Regions from separate parts of the Homo sapiens genome. Here regions 1 and 2 are each linked to region 3. The links come from fine-mapping of genetic effects on gene expression. A gene starts in region 3. Each other region holds a variant in brackets. All regions are shown on one strand. Distances are between the middles of the regions. Region 1 has its middle 23 kb from the start of SLC7A10. Region 2 has its middle 34 kb from the start of CEBPA. Region 3 holds the start of CEBPA (CCAAT enhancer binding protein alpha).

Region 1 (5,634 bases), 54 kb before region 3:
TGGCTAGTAGAGCCAGTCTGCAGTACCTGATGTCCCCAGTAGGGGTCACTTCTAGGAGGAAGCCTCTGCCAGGCCCTGGTGTAATCAAGGAGGGCTCCAGGCCCAAGTGGGCCCATGTGCCTGTGTCTGTGCCTCAGTGCCAGTGACTTCAAGCTTGAGTCTGCTCTGAGCCAGGCGCCACTACATGCCCCCCCAGTGGACAGAGCTGCCCTCTGGCCACGCCGCCAGCTGGCTAGGGCTGATCAGAAGCCTTCAGTTTCAGGACAGCTGCCAGGGTGTGGACCATGGGGACTGGTAAGAGTTTCTGGCTAAGTCCTGGCCAAGCCATTCCAAGGGACAGCTGCAGTGTCTCTCCAGTCAGCACCTGGAAGGGGGCCAGCCCAGCCTCAGACCTGGGGCCAAACACATGTGAGTATGTGCAAACGTGCACACACGTGTCCACAGGCACACACAAATACACATGTGCATGAACACATGTTCACACATGTACTCCATGCACAAAGGAACACACACACAAATAACATGCACATGCAAGCACATGCACTAACAAGCGCATGAATGCACACACGTGCAAATGCACAGGGATGTGTGCACAAATCACATATGTGCACACACTCACACAGACAAACACTCCCCACTCTGCCTCCCCAGGCAGGCTCCAGGAATGGAGAAACGCCTTTGCATCCAATGTGTTTGGGGTGAGATCAGCTGGGGGAGGGGCCTCTTCCCTGCCTCCCCAGTCCTGGCAGCTCCTCCCTTCTGGGCCAGGCTTCTCCCCTGTCTGGACTGGTTGGCATATGTGTATGGGAGGAGGAAGGGGCAGCAGGAATGTCCTACCACCCCCAGGAGCTGCTCTGGGCAGAGGCAGGGGATGGCGCCTTTGCTGGACTCCCTGGCTGCATCTTTCTGGGTGGGGGGCACTGGGATGGTTCCTGTATCCCATAGAAGCAAACTGGGCAGAGGGCCGAGGTGGGTGCTGTGGTCACTGTCAGGCATTGAAGGGACCCGGGGTCATCCCTGAAGCAGGTCAGCCTGGGAGAGGCCTTCCAGGCTTGCTGCAGTCGGCACCCCCCCCCACAGGAAGCCAGCCCAGCCATAGCCTCCTGCCCTTTTGAAGATGCTCCCTCCTGGCTTCTGTCCCTGCTGGCAGGCTGGGGTTTCTGAACCCCTCATTCCTCAGTCATCTCGACCCTGTGAGAGCCTCAGAGGCCTCCTGATCCCTGTTGTCCCCTGGCCATCCTGGAGTGTCAGCCCGGGGCTGGCCCTGAGCTCATTTTCAGCATGACAACTGGTCCTCAGCTGACACCCCCATCCCCTCAGCCCAGGAGGCCAGCTGTGGTGGGTTCTGCTGAATCCAGCTTGCTAACCACCAGCCCATGCCCACAGTCCCTGGCAGGGGACACAGTTCTGCCCCCTCCCCCACCAGATCAATACCTCCAAGACTGCTGTCAGCAAATCTTTGACCTCTGACCTGGCCACACACAGTGACCCCTGAACCTGTTGGTCTTTCCACCAACCCTTGCTCTAGTCTCTGGGGTGGGTGAGGGGCTGACACCCTGGCTCTGGCCTGGGCTGTTAGGGGCAGGGAGAGGGTGAGGCCATCAGTCCCCACCAGCCCGGCCTCTTCCCTTCACTCCACACTCAGGGCCACAGTGGTTGGTGTTGTTGGGGGGGGGATGGATGCAGTGGGGGATGTGCCACCTATGCCAAGCAGGCTGTGATGAAGGATTCGGGGATTCCTTCTGGAGCCCAGGGGCCCTGGGAGCTCCAGCCATGAGTGAAGAGCCAGCAGCGAAGAGGATGGCTTCCCATCCTCTCTCCAAGGCCCACAAAGGTGCCCACCCCTTTCTGCTCTGGGCCCTCCGGATCGATCTGGGACCCAGCAGCCTTGCAGCCCTGACCTGAGAATGCAAAGGGGCCTGTACAGATTGCTTCCTGAGCCCTGTTCCTTGCAGCTCAGCTGGGAGGGTCCCTGTCCTGCCCACCCATCCTGCCCCAGATAAGGGTCTAGCCCACTGTCTCGCAGAAACCGTGGTGGACCCCAGTGGTGCTGTTGGGAGCCCCACATCCCGAACCACCCTGGGATACAGCCTCGGGAGTCCTGCGCTCCCTGGCAGACACCACTGACCAGGGACCCTGCCTTCAGGAAATCCGGCCAGGACAACAGGACCTGCCCCTCTGGTGTCCAGGTCAGCTCACCATGTGGCCCTTTCCTGGCCCGCCTTCCCTTGCTCCTGCTCCTAGGAAGAGATGCCTCCACCTCCACTCCCCCATGGGGCATTCTGAAGGCCATGGGTTCCAGCAGTCCTGTGCTGGCACCAACTGGGTCTGCGGTAGGACAAGGGGCAGTGGCTCAGAGACTCCAGCAGTGAGACACTTCCCTGTCCCAGGAGGAGGGGAAGAAGAGGAGCAGGAGGAGGAAGGAGAGGGAGAGGAGGGAGGATGGTCAGGGCCCCCCACTAAAATGGGACAGGCAGGTGAGGGGTGCTTGGAGTGGAGACTATGCTGGAAACTGAGGCTGAGAGAAGGTAGTCAGAGGCAGAGCCACGCATGTGTGCTCCAGTGCGCCTGACTCCAGGGTCCTCGCTTCTCCTGACTGCATCAGACTCGACCTTGACCTCTGGGTATGCTGGGTCAGGGCAGAGTGCTGACGCACTGCAGAGCCCCTCGGGCCCCGCCTCTCTGCTTACGGGGGCCTTCTCAGGAGCCAGGAGGGACCAACCCAGGTAGGGGACTGTTTGGACGAGTCCAGGCCAGGTGGAGGTGTGGGCAGCCGGCCCTGAGGTCACTGGGTGTGTGTCAGGGGTGGGGATTGTCCAGGAGGCCCCTACAGAGCAACACGTCATTCTAAGGCTACATTTCACACTGGCCTCGGGTATGACCTTGGCCGTCCCTTCTCCCCTAAGCAGTCCTCTGGGCTTTCTGGGAGCCTTGGTTTCTTCTCCACTTGAGACCTGGGCCAGTCAGGTGGGAAAAGCCAGCAGCCACGGGGGGCCTGGTGCAGAGGAGGAGGTGGGAGAAGCAGCAGGC[G/A]GGGGGCGCCCAAGGAGCCTCTCTGCCTACCTTGGGCTCAGCCTTGCACTTGATGACCCCACCCGGGCCTGTGTGACAACCATGCCACTGACGGGGAACTGAGCCTCGGAGAGGGGAGGTGACTCACAGAGGTGACCCAGGAGATGGAACCGCATTGGGAGCTGGGGCTGGACATTCCAGCCGCTGCCAGGAAAATCCTGCCGGAAGAGTGCACTGTGCGGGTGCCCAGGAGGCTGCGGGTCTGCACCCAGCTCCTCCGACCCGGTGCCCAGGACCCCTGCCTGGCTGGCCAGAGAGGGGAAGTGCGCCCCGGGCGGCCAGCCCGCAGCTGTTGGGCAACATCTGGAGGGAAGGAGGAGGTGAGGAGCAGAGGGCGTGGAGCTGGGTCCTGACGTGTGCCCGCGCTGCCCGGCACCCACGAGGGCTGGGGCCCGGTGCCACCCGGGGGTCTCAGCCTCCTTCTAGTCCCACGAGCCCTAGAGGACTTCCTAGTCCCCCTCGCTGTGCCCTGGGGGGTCTGGGCTCTGTCCTAGGGGGTCTGGGCTGTGCACAACACACCACACCCCCGCCCCAGATGGGGGCTCCTGAAGACCCATGCTCCAACACACAGGCACACACAGACACGCACAGATACACACAGATACACACCACACACAGACACACAGATACACACCTCACACACACATCACACACACACACAGATACACACCACATGCACACACCACACACAGACACACAGATACACACCTCACACACACACCACACACACACATAGATACACACCACACGCACACACCACACACAGACACACAGATACACACCTCACACACACATCTCACACACACACAGATACACACCACATGCACACACCACACACAGACACACAGATACACACCTCACACATACACCACACACACACACATAGATACACACCACACGCACACACCACACACAGAGACACAGATACACACCTCACACATATATCACACAGACACACAGATGCACAACACACACACCAAACACCACACAAACCACACAAATACACACCACACACACACCAGACATAGACACACAGATATGTACCTCACACACATATCACACAGACACACAGATACATAACACACACCACACACACACAGATACACACCACATACATACCACACACAGACACACAACACACACAGACATAGACACACACAGACATAGACACACACACCACACACACAGAGGCACACACAGACATGCATAGACAGATACACATAGACACACATGCATACATCACACACCACACACACAGATACACAGATACACACCACATACATACCATACACAGACACAGACACACATGCATACATCACACACCACACACACAGATACACAGATACACACCACATACATACCATACACAGACGCAGACACACACACCACACACACAGACACAGATACACACACCACACATACCACACACAGAGGCACACACAGACAGATGTAGACAGATACACATAGACATAGACACACACAGACACACAGATACACATCAGACACACACACAGCATACAGACACCAAACACACAAACACACCACACATACACACAACACACACATATAAACACACACTACACTCATAGACACACACCTCACACAGACACCACACAGACACAGATAGACACAGGCCACACACAGAGACTGATACACACCACACACCCACACCCCACACACAGACACCACACTCACACCACACACACAGATACAGACACACACACCACACTCACAGACAGAGATAAACACACACACCACACTCAATAGACACACCAAGCAAACACACACCACACACACAGACACACACAGGCAGACACACACGCCACCCTGACCCTGTCCACCTATACTCACGGACCATGCCTCCTCGTTGGCTGCACAAACCCACATAGACTCGCAGTCAGCCACCCTGCAAGGGTCCTCAGCCATGCGTCCCCTCCCCCACCCCTCAGCCCCGTCAGCCCCCGCTGGCCAAGGCTGGAGCTCCAGGCAGGCTTCCTGGGCTGGGTGCCCCTCCCTTTGCCCTAGGAGATGTGCAGGGCAAACGAGCACTTCCAGGGGATTCCCGGGGGGCAGGGCTGCGGTGGCTTCATGGACGGGGAGCTGGATGCCGGCCCCCTGAAGCCTCCAGCATGGGGCTTGTCACCTCCTTGGGGCTGCCCTGAGGAACCTCCTGCCCCCTCTAGAGCCAAGTCCCCCTCTGCACCCTCTGGGGTCTGGGTGGGCACGAAGGGGGCCCTCGTCTTTGACTCTCCATATTCCCCTCACGCTGGCCTAGGGTGGCCTGCGGGCCCCACCTCACTGATGTCCTGGATTGGAATGAGGGAGTTCAGATGAAGGGGCCCCCACACCGTGTGGGGCCTGGCCCATCGGGGCTGCCCTGGCCTGGGCCAAGACCCACCATCTGCTCCAGGCCATGGAGACGCCTTCCCCAGGCTCTTCGTCCAGGCCAGACCCAGTTCTCTGACTCTGAGCTGGTCAGGGCAGAAGCCCCATCTTGGCCATCAGGGCGCCGGGGACCTCTGACCTGCTGCCTCCGTGTGACATTCCACCACTCCAGCCGGATTC
Region 2 (5,634 bases), 34 kb before region 3:
GCCTTCACGGCTTCAAGGCCGTTTGTCACCTAAAGCAGCTACGGGCATCTTCTCTCTTCCCTCTTTCTTTTTAGAGACAGTGTCTCACTCTGTCTCCCAGGCTGGAGTGCTGGGGTGCGATCATAGCTCACCGCAGCTGCAAACTGCCGGGCTCAAGTGATCCTCCCACCTCAGCCTCCTGAGTAGCTGAGACTACAGGTGGGCACCACCATGCCCAGCCAATTTCTGTATTTTTTGTAGAGATGGCTGTGTTGCCCAGGCTAGTCTCAAAGTCCTGGCCTTAAGCAATTCTCCTGCCTCAGCCTCTTAAAGCACTGGTATTAGAAGAGTGAGCCATGGCGCCCTGCCTCTCTTAAAGATGGCTTTAACCATCACTTACAGCACAGCTGCATCCCTCCTTGGCGGGGTGGGGGAGATTCTTTCCCACCTCTCTGAGTGTCCCCATCTGGGTCCTTGCTCAGTGAGAGCCAGACTTTCTGCTATAACCAGGCCCTGAATGAGAGAGAACCAGAGTCATGTGCTGTGCACCAAATGCAGTGGGAAGACACGAGGGATGCCTCGGTGACCTTCTTTTCAAACAGGAGTCTTTCCCTGGTAACCTGCCTCTGACCTTCCATCAGCCAGATGTTATCTTCCCAAGGCAACAGTGTTCCAGAATTCTTTCTGAGGTGGCCCTGGCAGCTTCTGGGTCCTTCTATTCTGATTTCCAGTTTTCTTTTTCCATTTATTTATTTATTTATTTATTTATTTATTTATTTATTAATTATAGGGTCTTGCTTTGTTGCCCAGGCTGGAGTGCAGTGGCACGAACACAGCTCACTGCAGCCTCAAACTCCTGGGCTCCAGTGATCCTCCCGCCCCAGCCTCCTGTGTAGCTGGGACTACGGGCATGCACCACCATGCCTGGCTAACTTTTTATAGAGATGGGGTCTCACTATGTTGCCCAAGCTGGTCTCAAACTAGCAGACTCAGTGATTCTCCTGCCTCAGCTTTCTGAGTAGCTGGGACCACAGGTGAGCACCATTATGCCTGGCTAATTTTTTATAGAGATAGGGTCTCACTATGTTGCCCAAGCTGGCCTCAGACTAGTGGGATCAAGTGATCCTCCCACCTCAGCCTCCTGAGTAGCTGGAATTACAGGCATGTGTCACCATACTGGGCTAGTATTTGTATTTTTTGTAGAGACAGGGTCTTGCTATGTTGCCCACGTTGTGCTTGAACTCCTGGGCTCAAGCGATCCTCCCACCTTGGCCTCCCAAAGTGTTGGGATTACAGGCGTGAGCCACTGCACCCGGCTCCAGGTGCAGTGGAGCCGGCCCAGGCCTCACCCTTTCTCCAGACCTCACATTCCCAGGCTCGTTGAAGGGAGCAGGGTGCTTCAGGCAAACTTGGGGCTCGGGTCTCCAGGCACTTGGGGTTTTCTCCTCCCCCGGCGCTGGCAGCTGGCCTGGCTTCTCTCGGCTGGAGATGCTGAAGACTCCTCGGCTGGTCTGAGAAGCATGAGAACAGAGCTGGGAAAACTGGCCGTTTTTGTGGTTTGGGGGTTTGATGCAAGTTTCACAACTGATCTCCCAAGAACACGGTCGGTCCGGTCAGATGCGCTCCCTGGCCAGGGGCCTGCTTCCCTGCTGACGCCGGTGCTGACCGCCCGAGGCGGGGGCTCCACTCGCCCTCCCCACCCCATTCCCCGCTTTCCTTCTTTAGGGAACAGCCTGGAGGTGTGGAGAAGATGGCTTTGTTTTGGGGGCTTTCGTGGTTTCCACCTCATCCTTCAGCCTGGGGAGAGCTGACGGCCTGGTACCCCTCACTCTCATCCTGGAGTTTTTCTCAGACACCTCTGGGCAGCTGTTCTTAAAGCTTTCATTTTGAGGGGACAGTGGGCCAAGGACGTCTTTTGTAGTGATAATCTTGGGCCGGGGCTGATGAGTGGGAAGTCTTAGAAAGACCTGCTCTAGGGCTCCGGGAGAGATGAGGGCCGCCAGGGAGGCACACACCTCCGTAGCCAGCCCACTCCAGGAACCCAGAGCTGCCTCCCCGGCAGACAGCTGGGCTGGGGAGGGGGTCCTCAAGACCTGGCCCTGCCTCCAAGTAGCCTGGCCCCCGGACCTATCCTTCCACCCTGGGAAGTCCCGAGCTGCCTCAGGCCAGCTGGGGCAGAACTGAAATTGGTGACATGTGCCTCTCTGGTCCCTTGACTCCCGCCCCCGCTCCCTCACCCCCAGAGTCTTCCTGAAGGAGCCTCCAGACCCAGCGAGGAGCCACAGGCAATGCCCACCCTGAGTGGGAGCTGCTGTCCTGCCTTCCACGTGGCCCCAGCCTAGCTCGCCCTTGCGTGAACTGGGAGCTGCCCCACTTCCGGAGGTTGGTGCGTGGTTCTAGATCCTGTCGTCCCTCCGCTTGGGGGCACAACGGGCTGGGACCCATGCACGTTTCTCAGACACTCCATCTCTCATCTCACAGAGCAGGAGGGGTCTGCAAAGGGCAGGCTGGTCAGGACACAGTGTGAGGCAGGGGGCCCCGGGGAACAGAGTCCAGGCTCCACCTCTGCTGAGCAGGCAGTCCTGAGTGTTGTTACCAAGTTTGGGTGAGGGCCTGGGACCCTGTCACATCACAGCTGGGGAAACGGCCAGGGCTGGGACTCAGTGGCGAACAGCAGAACCCAACAGGCGGCCGCACAGACTCACGACCAGGGGGCTCGGTCAGAGGTGGGGACAGAGGGTGACCTGGACTTGCTGAGTCAAGGAGTCAGGCCAGCGCTGCGGAGAATCCCACAGGGCTACGCTTGGGGGCCAAGGAGAGGCACGTGGCCAGGCACATCTGGGTGGACAGAGGGGTTCCAGCCACTCACAGAGCCCTCTCAGTCAGAGCCAGATAAGCCTGGGCAACTGAGCCACTCAGGCAGGGAGCGGGCGGGCATCTGAGGTCCCCAGGGAGTCTGCCCTCCTGGTGGGCACAGCTGGGCCCAGATGAGGCCCACAGCATTGGGACTGGGCAGAGACACCCAGACA[T/C]GGCTGCTGCTGTGGGCCCCAGGAAGGCCCCATATTTGGGGTGCATCTGCCGGGTGCCTGCGTCCCCTTCCCGTTCCCTATCCCTGTGCCCCCCTCCCAGCTTCCTGTTTCTGTTTTGGGGCTGCAGGAACTTCCTCTTCTCATCACGGACCAAAATGGCTTCTTGGTCTCAGCTGAAGGCCTGGCGGGGGGCTGGTCACCCCAGCCTGAAGGACAGCCACAGAGCGAGGGGGGCTCCGAGCCTCTGGGGGCGGTGACATCTGCCAAAGGGTGAACTGTGGCCCTTTCCCAAGAGACTCCCACAGCTCCTCCGATGGAGCCTGTCATGTGAGCACCTGCCCAGGCCACGGAGGGCCTGGGTCCTGCTGGAGTGACCCTAAACGGCCCCCTTGTGCCCTTCCCGCCTCACGCAAGGGACCCAAAATATGGATTGCCTGGTCTCCCCTTCCTCCTGCTCCCTCCCAGGCACATGGTGCAGACACTTACGGGCACCGTGTTGGCCTATGTGTGTGGATGAGCAAATACACACACACGGGGTAGGGGGGTGCCCTGAGCCTGTGACCCCCTGAGCCGGTGACCCCTGCCTGCCAGGGAGCAGAGCTGCAGATTCCTGGATGCCGAGGGAATAGAAGGCCTGGCCCGGCCTGGGCAGTACATGGTGAGGGTGTGTGTGTGTGTGTGTGTGTGTGTGTGTGTGTCTGGGTGAGTGTGCCTCTACGCATGTCTAGGGGGCACCATCCTTTTCCTCCCACTCCCCCTGCCCCCTTCCCCTGAGCAGAGCTGCTCCCTTAAATAAAGCTGAGCTGTGCCCTTTGGAGCCCCTGGGCCCTCGAGGGAGTGCAGGGTGACAGAGTGGGCTCCCCTTACTCCTGGGACTCCTCACTCAGGGGGAGCCTGTGGTGGGTGTTGGGGGAGGGCGTAGGAGGTGGGCACACGCCAGGGAGGGCACACAGGATGGTGGCCCCTGATCCCCTGGAGTTGTGATGCCCACAGGAGGGGTGCTTTACCAGGCTTGGGCACCCCAGGAACATCCTGGCCTTGGGATGGGGTGTGGGGGTAAATGGGGGACGGTGCTGAGAGGCCGAGCCCCGGTCTACCTCCCTGCCCATCCAGGGGTCCCGGGATGGAGTTGAGGAGCCAGATGCATCCTCTGGGGGGTTGTGGCCTGGGTCAAGGTCAGGACAGCGCCAGGGAAACTCCTGCTACCAGCTGCCCCTAGCCCCAGGCTGCCGCTGCTGTCCAGAATTCACCCAGCGTTCACTCCATGCCAGGCACCAACACGGACAGCTCCTTTAATGCCCGATGTCCATCCTTGTCACGGACAGGTGAGTACCCTGTGGCCAAATGGGCAGGAGGTTGTGGAGCCTGGCACCCACACTGCAGAGATGCCGAACTCTGGCCAGCGGCCTCCCTCCCCAAGGCCCGCTCCATGGGGAGACAGTGAGGGGAACCCACAAAGCCTGGGGTCACTGGGTCCCCCTAGCTGGCACCTAGCTTGTGCCCCCATTAGCACAGAGAGGAGGCGGTAAAACAAACACTCCCGACTGTTTACCCCAACATCTCGGGGCCATAATTAAGCTTCCTTCAATCGGGCCCTTATCAGCCCGGTATCTTGAGCAGCCTCTGACGGGGAAACATCCCGGAGCATCTAACGAAGGAAAGTTGGACGCCTTTTGAGACTTTTTAAATCCTGAAGAATAGGCCTCTGTTGCCAGCTACCCGCCTGTGGCAGCCTGCCTCATCTCTGGACTCTGCCGGCTGCCCCAGGGGCAGGGGCAGGACCAGGCGGCCCCAGCCCTGGCACCCCAGCCCTGCTGGGATGAGCCCCCAGGCCCTGCCCACCATCTGGCTCCTCCAATTGCAGTGTCCCTGCTGGCCAGCGGTGGGGTCCTGAAGGCACCCCCTCTTCTGCCCTCAATGCCCCACCTCACCCTGCCAGATGCCAATATCTGCCTTCGGCAGGCACCCTTGCCAGCCTGGGCCAAACCCAGGTGGTGGGTGGGGCTGGTGATGAAGGGTGAGCTCTCATTGCCCACAGCCCCCCATCACCTGGTTCTACAAGTTCCCCACCAACCAGGTCCAGACCTGCCACTCTCAGCCTCTGAGCTTTGCTGAAGCTGTTCTCTCCACTTGCAAGGCTTGTCCCTGCTCCTTCCTCCTGGATAATTTCTGCTTATATTTTAAGACTTAGCTTCCAGATGTGGCGGTTCATGCCTGTAATCCCAGAATTTTGGGAGGCTGCATTGGGAGGATTGCTGGAGCCCAGGAGTTCAAGACTGGCCTGGGCAACATAGTGAGACCCTATCTCTACAAAAAATTAAAAAATAAGCTGGGTATGGTGGTGCATGCCTGTAGTCCTAGCTACTAGGGAGGTGGAGGTGGGAGGACTGTTTGAGCCCAGGGGTTCAAGGCTGCAGTGAGCCACTGCACTCCAGCCTGGCCAACAGAGAGAGACTCTGTCTTTTAAAAATTAAAAGAAGACTTAGTTTGAGTATCACTCCCTCTGGGAGCCATCTGTGCATTCCAGGTCAGGCTCCTGTCTCTCCTCTGTGCCCCTCCAACTTCATGGTCTCCATGCCCCAACTCCGTGTGTGTCCCTTGGGGGGCAGACCTTGGGTATCAGGCC
Region 3 (5,634 bases):
GGGGCAGATAAGAAGCCTCGCCAAGGCCTCAGCCCAGTAACCCCTTCAGCCCCCTCCCCTGACCCCAAGAGACTGCCTTCAGGCTCTGGACATACTCCATTTGGAGCCTTGTCCTCTGCTATTTATTTGTCTTGCCTGGGGGAAGTAAGTCACCCCCTTAGGGTAAGAGGGGCTCAGGATGGATGGAGAGCTCATGAAAGTCAGGATTGCCGCCAGGGAAAATGCTGTATTATTTACAAATGTGACCTGGCCCACAGACAACCTTGGAAGTAGCTTCTTTCTGGTTTTAAAAAGACACCGACATTGACTTTGATATGTTTATATTATAGATATAATACATAAAACATCTAGAGTGAGACTCTACGTTCTCCCCAAAAGAAGAGAACCAAGCCGTCCTTCCCTGCTCCCAGCCCCAGTGATGCGTTGGCGGGAGGCCACCTCCCTTCCCGACCAGGAGCCAGGGCCTCTGGGGGACAAGCCTTGTGGGCAGCCCAGGCCGGAGGGGCTGGGGAAAGCTGAGGGCAAAGGAGAACCCCCCTCACCTCATTGGTCCCCCAGGATCAAAAGTAATCCCAAAACCAAAAGGAAAGGGAGTCTCAGACCCTTCCCCCAGCTGCCGACGGAGAGTCTCATTTTGGCAAGTATCCGAGCAAAACCAAAACAAAACAAAAACCAAATAAAATGGTGGTTTAGCAGAGACGCGCACATTCACATTGCACAAGGCACTGCTGGGGCACAGAGGCCAGATACAAGTGTTGATATCGGCTGATAAAGCAAAATATTTGGAAAGCTTGTCATAACTCCGGTCCCTCTGGGATGGACTGATCGTGCTTCGTGTTCCTAGGCAATGCTGAAGGCATACAGTACAAACAAGGCTGAGGGTCCCAGTGGCCCTTCACCCCCCATGCCCGCCCCACAGCCAGATCTCTAGGTCTCCCTCTCCCACCAGGGGTATACATCCTCAGAGCTGACCCACGACCTAGCTTTCTGGTGTGACTCGGGGTGGGGGCTCCCACTGGTCACCTGGTGACCCCCATCGCAGTGAGTTCCGCCCCAAGGGGAAGCCCAGCCTATAGCAGGCTGGGGTGGGGTGTGTGCGGAGGGAGGTGGGAGAGGCGTGGAACTAGAGACCCTCCACCTTCATGTAGAACTAGGGGAACAACCTTAGGTTCCAAGCCCCAAGTCCCTATGTTTCCACCCCTTTCTAAGGACAGGCGTGGAGGAGCGGCTGGGGCTGGCGGGCTTGTCGGGATCTCAGCTCCCTGAGCCCTCCTCCTGCCACGGGCCTGCTCCCCTCCTTCTCTCATGGGGGTCTGCTGTAGCCTCGGGAAGGAGGCAGGAAACCTCCAAATAAAATGACAAGGCACGATTTGCTCCCCCTACTCAGTAGGCATTGGAGCGGTGAGTTTGCATTTCCAAGGCACAAGGTTATCCTAAATACTAGAGTTGCCGGGCTCCCAGCTCAGCCCCAAGAATTCTCCCCTCCTCGCAGGGAGAAGCCACCGCCTGGCCCCCTCATCTTAGACGCACCAAGTCCGGCGCAGAGGAAGGGAGGGGACACGCGGAGCAGGCCAGGCTTTCAGGAGGCACCGGAATCTCCTAGTCCTGGCTCGCACGGCTCGGGCAAGCCTCGAGATCCGGCGACCCCAAACCACTCCCTGGGTCCCCGCCGGAGGCTGGCCCAGGGCGGTCCCACAGCCGCGCGCCTCACGCGCAGTTGCCCATGGCCTTGACCAAGGAGCTCTCTGGCAGCTGGCGGAAGATGCCCCGCAGCGTGTCCAGTTCGCGGCTCAGCTGTTCCACCCGCTTGCGCAGGCGGTCATTGTCACTGGTCAGCTCCAGCACCTTCTGCTGCGTCTCCACGTTGCGCTGCTTGGCCTTGTCGCGGCTCTTGCGCACCGCGATGTTGTTGCGCTCGCGCCGCACCCGGTACTCGTTGCTGTTCTTGTCCACCGACTTCTTGGCCTTGCCCGCGCCGCTGCCGCCACTCGCGCGGAGGTCGGGGTGCGCGGCGCCCAGCCCCTTGAGCGCGCTGCCAGGGCCCGGCAGGCCGGCGGCACCGAGCGCGGGCGCGGGGTGCGGGCTGGGCACGGGCGTGGGCGGCGGCGTGGGGTGACCGGGCTGCAGGTGCATGGTGGTCTGGCCGCAGTGCGCGATCTGGAACTGCAGGTGCGGGGCGGCCAGGTGCGCGGGCGGCGGGTGCGGGTGCGGGTGCGAGGGCGGCGGCGGCGGCGGCGGCTGGTAAGGGAAGAGGCCGGCCAGCGCCAGCTGCTTGGCTTCATCCTCCTCGCGGGGCTCCTGCTTGATCACCAGCGGCCGCAGCGCCGGCGCCCCGACGCGCTCGTACAGGGGCTCCAGCCTGCCGTCCAGGTAGCCGGCGGCCGCGCAGCCGTAGCCGGGCGGGGGCCCGTGCGCTCCCCCGGGCATGACGGCGCCGCCGGGGCCCGCGGGCGCGCCCGGGTAGTCAAAGTCGCCGCCGCCGCCGCCGCCCGTGGGGCCCACGGCCGCCTTGGCCTTCTCCTGCTGCCGGCTGTGCTGGAACAGGTCGGCCAGGAACTCGTCGTTGAAGGCGGCCGGGTCGATGTAGGCGCTGATGTCGATGGACGTCTCGTGCTCGCAGATGCCGCCCAGCGGCTCCGGGGCGGCAGGTGGGGCGGGAGGCTGCGCGGGGCCCGCGCCCCGGGGAAAGCCGAAGGCGGCGCTGCTGGGCGCGTGCGGGGGGCTCTGCAGGTGGCTGCTCATCGGGGGCCGCGGCTCCGCCTCGTAGAAGTCGGCCGACTCCATGGGGGAGTTAGAGTTCTCCCGGCATGGCGAGCCTCGGCGGCCTCCAGCCTGCGCGGGGCGTCGCCGCCGCCCACCCGGAGACCCTGCTCGCCCGCGCCCGCGCACCTCCGGGTCGCGAATGGCCCGGCCCGCGCCGGCCCAGCTTTTATACCCGGCAGGCCGCGTCGCCCCCTAGAGTCCGAGGCGGCCTCTGTCCCCGGGCTGCGGCGGCGCGGCGCCTGCTGGGTCCTAGCGCGCGGCCGGCATGGGGCGGCGAACCAGCGCGGCACAGCGCCGCGCTCCCCAGGCAGGCCGCGGCGCAACGCCCACCGCCTCCAGCGCGCCCAGCAGAGCCGCGGCGCTCGCTCCAAGCTCCGCCCCCGGCCCGGCCGTCGCCCCCGCGCCCACGTGGTCGGTAGCGGGGGCCCCCTCCTCCTGCCTGCCCTAGGCGCCCGTATCCAGCCACGGCCGGGAGCCCAGGAGTATCCCGAGGCTGCACGGGGTAGGGGTGGGGGGCGGAGGGCGAGTCTTGGTCTTGAGCTGCTGGGGCGCGGATTCTCTTTCAAAGCCAGAACCAGGCCTGTCCCGGACCCGCGTCCCGGGGAGGCTGCAGCGCAGAGCAGCGGGGCTGGGGCCGGTGGGGGGCCGTTTGGGACGCGCGGAGAGGTCCTGAGCGCGGTGGCTCTGCGTCTCCTAGCTCTGATCTCCAGGCTACCCCTGTGATTCCGCGCAGAGGTACCTCTCGGAGGACGCCGGGGTCCCATGGGCGGCGCCGCGCAGGGCGCTAGGACCCCGCGGGGAGCGGAGGCGGCCTCGGCCCGGGAGCCTGGAGGACCTGGCCGGTCGATCCGCCCGGGCTGGAAAACTTTCTTTATAATTACTTCTCCAGGTCGGAGCGCGCGGCTTGCTAGGCGCGCGGGGCCGGCGCTGTTACCCGGCGTGGAGTCGCCGATTTTTTTTCCTGCGGGACCGCGGGGCCCCCCAGACTAGCGGAGCTGGACGCCGGGGCGAGCACGGGGAGGGGCGCACCGAGGGAGGAGACAAACTTAACTCTGGGGCCGGGATTCCGAGGCGGGGGCCGCAGCCCTCGAGGCCCGAAGCCACCGCTTCCTCCCCCGCCTCCCCATTCAGGTGGGCGCCAACGGCGGGAGCGAGGGTGTCCAGGCCGCCGGGCTGCCAGGTCCGAGCACGCACAGGGAGAACTCTGCCCAGTGGTTCGCCGGGCGCTGTAGTCCCCGGGATCCTAGGGACCGAGGCGGCCAGGCCCTGGGGCCCCTTGAGTGCGGCAGCTAATGCTCTCACCGCGGCGGGGGAAGGAGCTTGCCACCGAGACCCCCAGCCACGTGCGTCCCTCGCATTCTTTACCGGGGCCGGGGTGGCGGCTACGGACCGTCAGCTGGGCCCAGATGGAGTCTTGGGAGCCCTCAAGTGTCTCCTGTCCTTGCCCGCGCCGCCCCTCGCCACTGGCGCTGAGGCCTGACGCCGCCTGCGTCCCGGCTAGAGGCGCGCTTGCCTACAGGTGAGGGAAGACCCCCTTCACCGACAGTGGCCTTAGGCCTGGCAAGGCGCCACGACCCGCCCAGGAGCCCCGGAGGGGGCACAGCTAAAAACACCGCTGGAGAGCCCCGAGCTTCCACGACGATCGCAGTAAAGAAGCAGTTTCATCTGGGCAACGCACACTGCGCTTTAATCAAGTTCCTATTCAACATAGTCCCAGTGATTAATAGCCCAACTGCTTCGTTTTCGGTCCAGAGCTCATAAACAAGATATTTTTAGCTTGACGCTTTTGGACGGGAGGGAGTAAAAACCAGATACGTTAAATAAATATCCCGATGTGAGCCGGAGAGCTGCTTGCTGAGCCAAATGCAGGACCCATTCATATAGCATTCACCTGTGGAGGGAGACCTGGACGGAAATCAAAAAGCACCAAGAGCGATTTGCGTTTTTTTCTGCGGTGCTAAAACTAATGGCTTTTCCTACCTAGGAACAAAGAAACGCCACTGTACATGCACGGTTCCCGGCCTGTGGAGTTGTGGGAGGAAGGCGATGTCTGGCCTTTTTTGCACAGCTGCTGTTGCCTGCCCAGAGATCGGGAACTCTGCCCCGTAGGACTGGAAGAAACCTCAGTAATGGGAATAAGACTTTGTCCAATAGGGGGCTGATGAATGTGTGGGGGCGACAATGGCAAGGAGTGGGACTCCCGGCCCGGGGTTCGCCAACCCCAGGGGCCACAGGTCCTCCTACAATTGAACCAGAATTCACCCACCCGGGCCTGCCCTGTGCAGGGTGCCGAGAGCCCAGGGATGCATGAGAGGGTGGCTCCTGCCTCTGGGAACTGGGACAGTGGGAGAGACGGATAAGTTGTCACACAGAGGCTGCTGGGAGGAAGGAGGAGACAGAAGGAGTAGGGGATGGGACTTCATTCATTCATCAAATGCACACGAGGCACAAATGGGAATCAAGGGTGGATGTGCTGTGATGAAGAGAAGTCCTGCCCTGAACAAGGTGGCGCTGTGGAGGAGGCAGAGATCAGATTTGTCTGCGGAGGTGTTATGGACTGAACTGTGTCCCTGCCCCAAATTCCTATGTTGAAGGCCTAACCCCCATGTGACTGTATTTGGAGATAAGGCTTTTAGGAAGTCATTAAAGTGAGATGATGTCATATGGGTAGGGTCCTAATTTGATAGGATTGGTGGCCTTATCAGAAGAACAATGTCATGGGCATGCACAGAAAGGAGGTGGCCGTCTGCAAGCAGGGAAGAGGCCCCTCACCAGAACCTGAGGGTGCTGGCAGCTTGGCTTTGGCCTTGGGCATCCAGCCTCCAGAACCATGAGAAATAAATGTTTATGGTAGGTCTATGATGGCAGCCT

Evidence for each region. PIP is the estimated chance that this variant, and not a neighbour inherited with it, causes the effect.
Region 1: its variant is fine-mapped to the expression of CEBPA in whole blood (INTERVAL, PIP above 0.99).
Region 2: its variant is fine-mapped to the expression of CEBPA in whole blood (TOPMed, PIP above 0.99).

The regions. Positions count from the first base shown.
Region 1 is chr19:33,246,093-33,251,726 of GRCh38, forward strand. No RefSeq gene overlaps it. Among named protein-coding and RNA genes, the nearest start is that of SLC7A10, 23 kb to the left of the region's middle. RefSeq lists enhancers at 2,549-3,050, 4,255-5,138, 5,139-5,634 and a silencer at 3,442-3,491. The variant G/A (reference allele first, on the strand shown) is at 3,031.
Region 2 is chr19:33,265,659-33,271,292 of GRCh38, forward strand. No RefSeq gene overlaps it. Among named protein-coding and RNA genes, the nearest start is that of CEBPA, 34 kb to the right of the region's middle. The variant T/C (reference allele first, on the strand shown) is at 3,009.
Region 3 is chr19:33,299,631-33,305,264 of GRCh38, forward strand. CEBPA (CCAAT enhancer binding protein alpha) reads right to left here and starts at 2,904. Exons shown (of 1, transcript NM_004364.5): 1 at 304-2,904. The coding sequence starts at 2,784. The coding sequence ends at 1,708. It overlaps CEBPA-DT (CEBPA divergent transcript), which reads left to right and starts at 3,191. Exons shown (of 1, transcript NR_026887.2): 1 at 3,191-5,427. RefSeq lists silencers at 2,735-3,304, 3,385-3,644.